3 linked regions of the Homo sapiens genome follow. The protein of the gene in region 3 purifies or fractionates together with the protein of the main gene of each other region. This does not show direct contact. Each region holds a gene or a part of one and is shown on either strand. Other genes may lie near its edges.

Region 1 (3,655 bases), on a different chromosome or scaffold from region 3:
TACATTTGGGGCTACGCAGCACAGTGTCTCCCCTTTTTATTCCCCATGGCACAAATGTTGCTGTCAACAATGGACAATTCAGGGGCAGGGCAACTTATCTGAGAGCTTATGAAAACAGGTTTTCTTATCCTGAAATTGCAACTGCAGTGCATTTAGCCAGGACTTAAGTCCCTAAAGCTTTTAATGTTTTGGAAAACCTCTTCTTGAGCCAAGAGGGGTCTGGATCACCGCCAGCTTGGTGTGCCAGGCCTGTTAACGAGGAAGAACTGGTAGAGGGAACATTGAATTAGGCAGCAGGGAGGGAGGAAGAGCAGGTGAATTCCCACTCCGGAAATCAACTCTGCCTCCAAGCTCCGTTAACTGATAAGAAAATAACAACTCAGTGTTCATGACCCACGGTGTACATCCATGCTTTTACACACATGATCTCATTTCATCCTCTGAAGCTGAGAGTCTAAGCCACTGTTTCCACCCTTCAGGTCTCAACCCAGGAGTCTAGTCATAAAATCAGTGAGTTACAGTAGCATTTTTAAAAAATTACATTGACTAGAAAACATCAGTGAGTAGCACAGGTAGCAACACTATGCATTCAGTGAGCCCAGTGTGTACTGGGTTACACTGTAAAATGTATAACTGTTCTTGCAGGAGTTGAAAAATTGTCATAAACAATGAGTGTTTATAGGCAGAGGTGGTACTATCCCCACTTTAGAGATGTGAAAACTGAGGCTCAGAGAAGGGATTTGCCTCGGATTAAGCCTAAAACAGTAGAGCCAGGTCCCCGCCAGGACAGATCTGATGCTTTTCTCTTGGGCTGTCAATGTGAATAGTTCCCACAGACATCCCTGGAGCATCATCCACTCCCCGTTGCTCCACCCAGAATAATACCCGAGAGGCTGGCAAGTCTGCTGTCCCTTCCAATCCAGCTATTGAGCGTGACCTGCTGAAAAGAGCTACAATGACAACCTGATCCATCTTCCCTCTGCTACCAGCATGTCCACAAACCCCCAAATCCCTTCAGAGAAAAGCACATGCTCAGGCCAAGTGACACCAAGCAGACAATGGTGACACAGCTCCAATGTGAGCAGAACTTGTGCTACACACTCAATTGAGAGCACCCACCTCGGCTGGCAAAATACCACCAGCCATATAAGATTAACTTGGAAATGTGTCTAGTTTTGTAGCTTTACCGCAGAGCTCGGTATTCTGGGAATACAGATTCCTGGGCTTTATTCTTGAAGAAAAACATCTCCAGGGGCTGGGAGCCCAGGAATCCATTTTACACATATCTCCTTAAGGTGAAGAAACTCCATCACTGACCCATCTTTTAAAAACTCTCTCTCTGGACCCCATATCACTCCCCTCTCCACTCACAGCCAGAATTTTCCATCTCCCCTGCTCCTCCCATTCTCCTCCCTCCTTCCATTGCTCATCCCTCTGAAATCTGCCCTCCCCACAACCACCACAAAAAAGGCTCTTGGTGAAGGCTCAACAATGACCTCCTATAGATAAACCCTACAGGCACTTCCAGTTCTCATCTTGTTTGGCCTCTTGAACTGGATGCGACACTTGGTTTCCCTCCTACCTCTCTAGCAATCATTCCTTTCTTCTTTGTAAACCCTCCTCTCCCCATTCTTTCAATGTTGAAGTTCCACAGCTCACTCAGTCTACCCTCTCTTCCTACCCTATATGGTCCCCCAGCCAACTTCACCCACTCTCCTGAACAGCACCCCTAAATTAACATCTCCAGATCAGACCTCTCTTCTAAGCAACACATCTTTACGTCCTGCTCACTCAGCAGTTGAACTGGAGTCAAGTACAGTTCTAAAATGTTAAAAGCCTAATTCTCATACAAATAGGTATTGAGCATATTTCAAAGTTTTACTTAACTCGCTAATAAGAGACCCTAAAAAAGAGGATATAATCCTGATATAAGATTGCTACATTAGATACCAACAGGTTAATGTCCTTCAGGGCAATAATCTTTGTGCTTCTCTTCTTTACCAAACAGAAATAATTTGCATCCTACTTAACTTTACAAAGTATGGCCCATAAAAAATAATAAACAGAGTTACATCCCCTAGAACACAGCTGGTCCTTAGGTGGTTTCTTATACAATACTCCAGTATGATACTAAAATGTCACAAAATCATCTTTTATTTCCAAGTGTTATATAATTTTTTTCCACTGTAGTCTACGAATTTGGATGGAGAAAAATGACATCTTTATCTTCACTAACCTCTAACTGAAATTTAGCCTTTCCTGTATTATGAATGTATTTATAAATGTATAAATGCTTTCTACATTTATGAATGTAGATAACAAATTACAGTAGTAATTAGGGTAGCAGTGTCTGTGACTTTGCCACCAACAGAAATCATATTTTCTTATCACATTACAAGATATCCTGAAACACTATTTATGCTCATCACAACTTAAAATTATAGAAGTTATCAAGCTTGTACCTTTGATCTTTTTATATGATGCATTAATAAACATAAATATTATTTTATCACAACCTTGTTGTTATATTTTGATAACTGTATTTCAATAAAACTGCTTTCTTTGTAATTCTATGCATTTTACTTTATACATTTAAAAACATTATTCTAAGAAAGACCCAGAGGTTCTCAGAGAAGGCTTTCCTGACTCCTTGAATTAGGTTAGGGATCCCTGTTATACATTCTCTTACCACATTATATTAACACTTTCTCTTTCCAGCACTTACTACCTGAATTAAATAATTAATCAGTGGCTGTCCCACTAGGCCATGAGAGAAAGAGATGGTGTCTGTCTTATTTATGGTTATCCCCAATGCCTTAGCATGAGGCCTGGCTCATAAAAGATTCTCAAGGAAATATCCATTTGGGAAAAAAAAGAAGTATCTGTTGAATGAATGAACATCTGTGGCACATGTAGGATGCTGATGTTGGTCCACCTTCCTTTGAAATAGGGGCATGTACTAATACTCTGCCCAGGACCCAGTAAGACTAGACCCTGTGATGAGAACAAACCCACTCGTTCCTCAAGACCCTTCCCTACTTGGCCCAAACAACAGAGCTTTCCTACCAGGCCCACATCTGGGCTCAGATACTGGATCACCTTTATGTTTAAGCCCCAGTTTACAACCCTCAACCTTGATTTTCATCAACATCTTCCAACAAGGATTAAAGGACCTGCTCACGACTTCCAGAAATCTGCCTGCGCCAAGGGGTTGGAGGAACTGTAGGATTCTTTGCAGGGAATGGACACTCCACCCTTGCGCCCCCGCAACTCTAGTGAGCTGGAAACTCTGAAGCCAGACACAGGCCCACCATCACACCATCTAGGAATGGAATGTGCATCAGACTGGGGCCTCAGTATGACTTTGAGGAATAAAGGCTCTTTTAACCCCACACTCCATGAGTGTCTTCAACCCCCCAATGTAAGATCACAAAGCTAATTATTTAGAAGTGGTTGCAAACTGGTATGTGGAAAGAGGCCCTGCTGATGTAGGGTGGCAATAGGGGACAGTGAACTGGAGCTCCTTGGGGGAAGGATACAGTCAGCATGTACCTGGCTGGCCACCCCTGTCCAATGCCAAAGCCACCAGGGAGCAGCTGAAAAGCAAGTTTCAGGGACACTCCTGGAAAATGGCTGCCAACGCAGCTGCTTACAC
Region 2 (2,877 bases), on a different chromosome or scaffold from region 3:
TGATGGGTGCCTGTAGTCCCAGCTATTCAGGAGGCTGAGGCAGGAGAATTGCTTGAACCCGGGAGGCGGAGGTTGCAGTGAGCCAAGATGACACCCCTGCACTCCAGCCTGGGAGACAGAGCGAGACTCCATCTTAAAAAAAAAAAAAAAAAAAGAGTTTTAAGATAATACATCTCAGTTCTCTGCCAAATTTATTTTTGTTTATGTGGACAATGCTATATGAATATGATCTATGCCCCTCCATTTTTCTTTCCTGGTGTCCCCACCATACATAATAGAAAAATATAATTCATTTAGCTCATCTTAACTCTACAATCTATCCCAAGAAAGAATTCTTCTGAATGGAGATACCTCAAGATCTTCAATATTATTTCTTAGCTTAATTTGGAAGCCTTACCAAACATCATGAAATGATGCCATTGTCAGGTTTGTTATATAGTCTCACATTAACCTATGTATTATCACTCACACGGAATACCCCTAATGAGCTAACACAGAGCAATGTTCTTAAGTTTCATTTACCACAAAATACCCGATTTTGATTTTGTGGGTTTGGGTGGATCCCTCAGGCTATATGGAGGCAGGTGGTCATGGAGCAGAGGAACAGTCACTAAGCCTCCCTTACTGAGCTGTACCAATTAGTGTTTGCTTTGTCCCCTCATACACATAAGATTTTTACCCAAGCACTGGTGAATATGTGGCCTAGGACACAACATTCCAATAGTTAATCTCCATCTACCGAGTCCTTTTAGGTGTTCACCACTGAAGTCTAGTTTTCTACTTATACTTTCCTAAGAGTATGCAAACGTTTATTTATTTGGGCTTGAATTTTTCTGCTACTTTGTCATACTGACCAGTGAATCAGGGGACTAAAAGACTTTGTTTCATCTATTTGTTAAAACTGTACTGTTCTATTTCCTTTTTCACTATCCTGAAAGCTCTAGATTTGAAGCAGGCAAGAGCATATGTGTGATAATTTTAAAGATCATACATTACCTCATTGTAAGGTGAAAAAATAAACTGGAAGATGATCAATAGTCCAATAAGAGTGGGTTGGCTATCATAAAAACCAAATGCAGCAAAAAGCTCCTTTCGACCAATTAATACAGCAAATAAAAAAAAACACAGGAAAGAATTCATCTAGAAAGAAGGACATGAAATTTCTAAGTTATTACCAAGCTGATTTCACTATGGGATCAGTAGCATCCATAAAGTATAAGAAATCACAGTGTGGCCGGGCGCGGTGGCTCACGCCTGTAATCCCAGCACTTTGGGAGGCCAAGGCGGGTGGATCACGAGGTCAGGAGATTGAGACCATCCTGGCTAACATGGTGAAACCCCGTCTCTACTAAAAATGCAGAAAAAATTAGCCGGACGTGGTGGCGGATGCCTGTAGTCCCAGCTACTCGGGAGGCTGAGGCAGGAGAATGGCGTGAACCCGGGAGGCGGAGCTTGCAGTGAGCTGAAATGGCGCCACTGCACTCCAGCCTGGGCAACAGAGTGAGACTCCATCTCAAAAAAAAAAAAAAAAAAAAAAAAAAAATTCATAGTGTGATTTTAAGAAAGGTATTAGTGTGATCACAGAACAAATTATTTAAGTAGCTTTTTTTGAGACAGATCTCACTCTGTCGCCCAGGGTGGAGCTCAGTGGCACGATCTCGGCTCACTGCAAGCTCCGCCTCCCATGTTCACGCCATTCCCCTGCCTCAGCCTCCCGAGTAGCTGGGACTACAGGCGCCCCCCACCATGCCCGGCTAATTTTTTGTATTTTTAGAAGAGACGGGGTTTCACTGTGTTAGCCAGGATGGTCTCAATCTCCTGACCTCAGATGATCCACCCACCTGGGCCTCCCAAAGTGCTGGGATTACAGGCATGAACCATACTGCCCCGCCAGTAGTTTTTAGTTTCACTTTTATTTCAAAAGTAAAATAAAATGTTCCCAAATGTATAAACTGTATCATTTTCTATAAGGGCAAGCTTAAGTTGAGGCTCCTATCATTGAGGGTTTGAAGTGGTCAATAGCAATGGGATATTTTCTCTCTGTAAAAGGGTGAAGGGCTAGAATGGATTCTGGCCTTGTTTTATAACACTGTAATCAGATACAACGCCTCCCACCTGACTTTGAAGCGGAGGCTCCAAAGAAACAGGCTTCCCTTGAATCCTCTCTAGGCCCACTGGAGCTGTACCAGATAGTTAGAAAGGTCAGGGGGAAAAGTAGATCCATCTTGATCAATAAATGAGAGGAGAAAAAAATAAAAAATCTATACCAAAATACAACCTCTTGGAGTAAGGTTGGAGAACACACAACATTCTTTTTCTGTGCAAATTAGGATCTTGGAGGCCACATGTACCTTATTTAAGTGTGTTGCTTCAAACCATTTGACCCAAACGAGATGACCCAAGAAGCTGTCAGCTTAGAATGGGGCTTAGAGCATAAGAAGGCTCACCAGCTGCCCCAGGACAAGCAGCTTCGACACTCATCCTTATAACTCAGTGGATCCAATATGACAAGCTCCAACAGAAAACTCAGTGAAGTCTCCTACACTTATAATCTATGCATCCACTTTTGTCAAGTAACCATTGTCCTTTTGAAAAATAACTTTTGGTTTGCTACTGGGCCCTACTACAGACTGAATTCCTGGCCATGGGATACTGTGATCCTGCAAACTGAACTATCCCTTCTGAACTGGGTGCTATGTTAATCTGTTAATCTGCCTAGCCAGGAAACTGCTATGCGCAGAAGCACTTCATCATCAAGGACAAGTGGTAGATATAAGAGTGGAAATGAAGCAAGTTATGAAGGCACCAGTAAGTTAAATAAGCAGATGGCTCATACTCTAGTACACCAACTCCTACCACCAACAACCCTCAACCAAC
Region 3 (3,655 bases):
ATTAGCAGGTCATGGTGGCGTGCACCTGTAGTCCCAGCTACTGAGGAGGCTGAGGTGGGAGGACGGCTTGAACCCAGGAGGGTCGAGGCTGCAGCGAGCTGTGACTGTACCACTCTAGCCTGGGTGACAGAGCTAGACCTTGTCTCAAAAAGAAAAAAAAAAAGTTTTATAATTGAGGTAAATCATTCAGCATTAAGTGCTGGCTTTCTCTTAAAGAGACGACATATCCACCAATATCAAAAACAGCCTCAAAGCTGGGCGTGGCGGCTCACACCTGTAATCCCAGCACTTTGTGGGGCTGAGGTGGGTGGATCACTTGTGGTCAGGAGTTCGAGACCAGCCTGGCCAACATGGTAAAACCCCATCTCTACTAAAAATACAAAAATTAGTCGAGCGTTTTAGCACATGCCTGTAATTCCAGCTAGTTGGGAGGCTGAGGGAGGAGAATCACTTGAACCCGGGAGGTGGAGGTTGCAGTGAGCAGGGATCACATCAATGCACTCCAGCCTGGGTGACAGACCAGATTCTATCTCAAAAAAAAAAAAAGAAAAGAAAAAAAAAATTTTTTTAAAAGCAGCACTGACCCATGCAGACAACGAGTCAAGGGTTTTATATGCATTAACTCGTTTGACCATCCTAGTAGCCTGTGAGGTTGGTTACTGCCATTACCTCTCATTTTACAGATGAGGCAACTGAGGCACAGAGAGGCCAAGTACCTTGGCCAGGGCCACTGAGCATGGAAGTGGCAGGACCACGGGTCTAACCCCAAATCTGTCTTGGGAACTGTGAGACTCTGAAAGAGGCTACGTGTGCCCACGGTGTTAGGAGAGCCAGTCTTCCTATTTGTTGTCCACTGCAGGCAAGAGGGATTTTCTTCTCTTCTCTTTTCTTTCTCTCTTTCTCTCTCTCTCTCTCTCTCTCTTTCTCTTTCTTTTTGATACAGAGTCTTGTTCTGTTGCCCAGGCTGGGGTGCAGTAGTATGATCTTGGCTCACTGCAAACTCCACCTTCTGGGTTCAAGCGATTCTCCTGCCTCAGCCTCCCCAGTAGCTGGGACTACAGGCGCCTGCCACCACGCCTGGCTAATTTTTTGTATTTTTAGTAGAGACAAGGTCTCACCGTGTTAGCCAGGATGGTCTCAATCTCCTAACCTTGTGATCCACCCGCCTCAGCCTCCCAAAGTGCTGAGATTACACGTGTGGGCCACCGCGCCCGGCCCACGCCTGGCTAATTTTTTTATTTTTAGTAGAGATGGGGTTTCGTCATGTTGGCCAGGCTGGTCTCGAACTCCTGACCTCAGGTGATCCGCCCACCTCGGCCTCCCAAAATGCTGGAATTACAGGTGTGAGCCACCACGCCCGGCCCAAGAGGGATTTTATAAAGTGATTTTCGACAGCTCTTCCTGAACCCCTGACACAGCTCAAGGACTTGTGTGGTTCTGTCCTCTAGGCTTTTCTGTCAAGCGAGTCCCTGGGCACGTGCTAGGGCACTCAGCAAGCAGGACAGCCAAGGCCAGGGAGCCACCCCAGTGACAGATCACTAACTCGGCGGGGGGCAGACAGAGAACTCGTCCCTGAGGTGACATGTGAGCCCCACGTGTGCCCTGTCAGACAAGGTGGCCTTGCTGAGAGCAGGAGGGGCAAGTGCGTGGAGCCCAAAGAGGAAAACCTGAAGAAACACCAGGCGCTCCCAGACGAGAGGGTGTGGCTGGTCGGGGTTGGGCCCCGAGATGGAAACACGTTTTCTGGGCCTGGAGTTTCTATCCTGTGGGGTCATCTCTAAGAAAATGAATCCCAGATAATGAATACAAAATTGCCCAGCCTCTCCTGGGTTTTTTTTTTTTTTTTTTTTTTTGTGAGACGGAGTCTCCCTCTGTCACCCAGGCTGGAGTGCAGTGGCACGATCTCGGTTCACTGCAACCTCCGCCTCCCTGGTTCAAGCGATTCTTCTGCCTCAGCCCCCCGAGTAGCTGGGACTACGGGCACGCGCCGCCATGCCCAGCTAATTTTTGTATTTTTAGTAGAGACAGAGTTTCACTCTGTTGGCTAGGATGGTCTTGAACTCCTGACCTCGTGATCCACCCACCTCAGCCTCCCAAAGTGTGTGTTTACAGGCGTGAGCCACCAGGCCCAGCCTTTCTCCTGGGGTCTTGAAAGAGGCCCTGAAGGTTAAGCTTCATCAGCTTCCTGTAAAATGTGCCCCTGAACAGGACAGGGTGTTACTGAGTTGCCAAATACCTATTAAAATGTTAGATACACGCACATACCCAGAAACATACACACAGCCGGACACACATACACACACACACACACACACACACACACACACACACACACACGAATACACTCTGAGCACAGCATTTGTTATGTTTTGAATAAATGACTAACTAAACATCCATTACTACTACTCCCAATAAAAACACTTATTGCAGCTGGTCACAGTGGCTCACACCTGTAATCCCAGCACGTTGGGAGGCTGAGGCGGGTGGATTACCTGAGGTCAGGAGGTCTAGACCAGCCTGGCTAACATAGCAAAACCTCGTTTCTACTAAAAATACAAAAATTAGCCAGGCGTGGTGGCTCACACGTGTAATCCCAGCTACTCAGGAGGCTGAGGCAGAGTTGCTTGAACCTGGGAAGTGGAGGTTCCAGTGAGCTGAGATCATGCCACTGCACTCCAGCCTGGGCAACAGAGATAGACTCCGTCTCAAAAAATAAAACAAAACAAACCACTGTGTGCCAGGCACTGTTCCAAGGGCTTATTTAATTTTCATTACAACTCAATAAAGTAGATAGTACCATCATCCCCATTGTACAGAGTAGAAAAATGAGGCTTAGAGTGGTGAAGCAATTTCCTCAAGGTCACACAGCAGGAAGTGGACGCAGGCGCTGGGCTTGGAGTCTGAGGTCTGCACTATTCTAGTAGTGAACCCACTGTCTCAGGAAGCAGTGACCACATCAAACTGTCTCCCCCACACCTGGAGCTCAAATTCCAGAAGGGGCGACAGACACCAGAGCAATCAATAAGTAAACAACACTGTGGATTACAAAGTGTCCACACCAGCTTCCCTCTGGGGACAAGCTGGGCTCTCAGAGGGTGCCCCTGCTCCCACCTCCTTCATGGAGAATGTGAGTCACTCCCTCCACTCAGTTAGGTTGGCTCCTTGAACTTTCATCTCTAGCAAACATACTTTCCTCTCCCTTTCTAGTTGCTAAGTATAGGGGAAAACACAGCAAAACACAGGGACCTGGGGCCTGTGATTTTAAGGAGGCAAGCAGGGAAGTCCTCCCAGAGAAGGTGATGTTTGAAAAGGAGGTGAAAGAGGTCAGGGAGTGAGCACGTGATTCTGGGAACAGAGGTGGATCAGACATGGCCCCTCTCTGCAGGGAGCTACCAGCCTGGGGATGATGGAGTAGGGCAGTGGGGAACATGGGGTAAACAGAGGATCCCAATCCAGTCTGGCGAGGGCTGATGGAAGCAAATCTAGGGACTGCAGAAGCCCCCAGGGATATACCAAGGCAACCTGAGGGTGTAGGGTCAGGGGCTTCCTGGAGGAGGCGATGCCAGGGAGAATCACTAAATTATTATTATTATTATTTTGAGACTGAGTCTAGCTCTGTCACCCAGGCTGGAGTACAGGGACACAATCCTGGCTC

What was found.
Region 1: the proteins of ETFB (region 3) and PDIA5 fractionate together in Homo sapiens (co-fractionation; one large-scale study listed by BioGRID). This does not show direct contact.
Region 2: the proteins of ETFB (region 3) and ZMPSTE24 fractionate together in Homo sapiens (co-fractionation; one large-scale study listed by BioGRID). This does not show direct contact.

The regions. Positions count from the first base shown.
Region 1 is NC_000003.12:123,073,372-123,077,026, reverse strand, and holds part of PDIA5 (protein disulfide-isomerase A5 precursor), read right to left. Parts: intron 1-3,655.
Region 2 is NC_000001.11:40,289,117-40,291,993, reverse strand, and holds part of ZMPSTE24 (CAAX prenyl protease 1 homolog), read right to left. Parts: intron 1,141-2,877; coding exon 997-1,140; intron 1-996. UniProt on the Homo sapiens protein: Transmembrane metalloprotease whose catalytic activity is critical for processing lamin A/LMNA on the inner nuclear membrane and clearing clogged translocons on the endoplasmic reticulum.
Region 3 is NC_000019.10:51,359,868-51,363,522, forward strand, and holds part of ETFB (electron transfer flavoprotein subunit beta), read right to left. Parts: intron 1-3,655. UniProt on the Homo sapiens protein: Heterodimeric electron transfer flavoprotein that accepts electrons from several mitochondrial dehydrogenases, including acyl-CoA dehydrogenases, glutaryl-CoA and sarcosine dehydrogenase.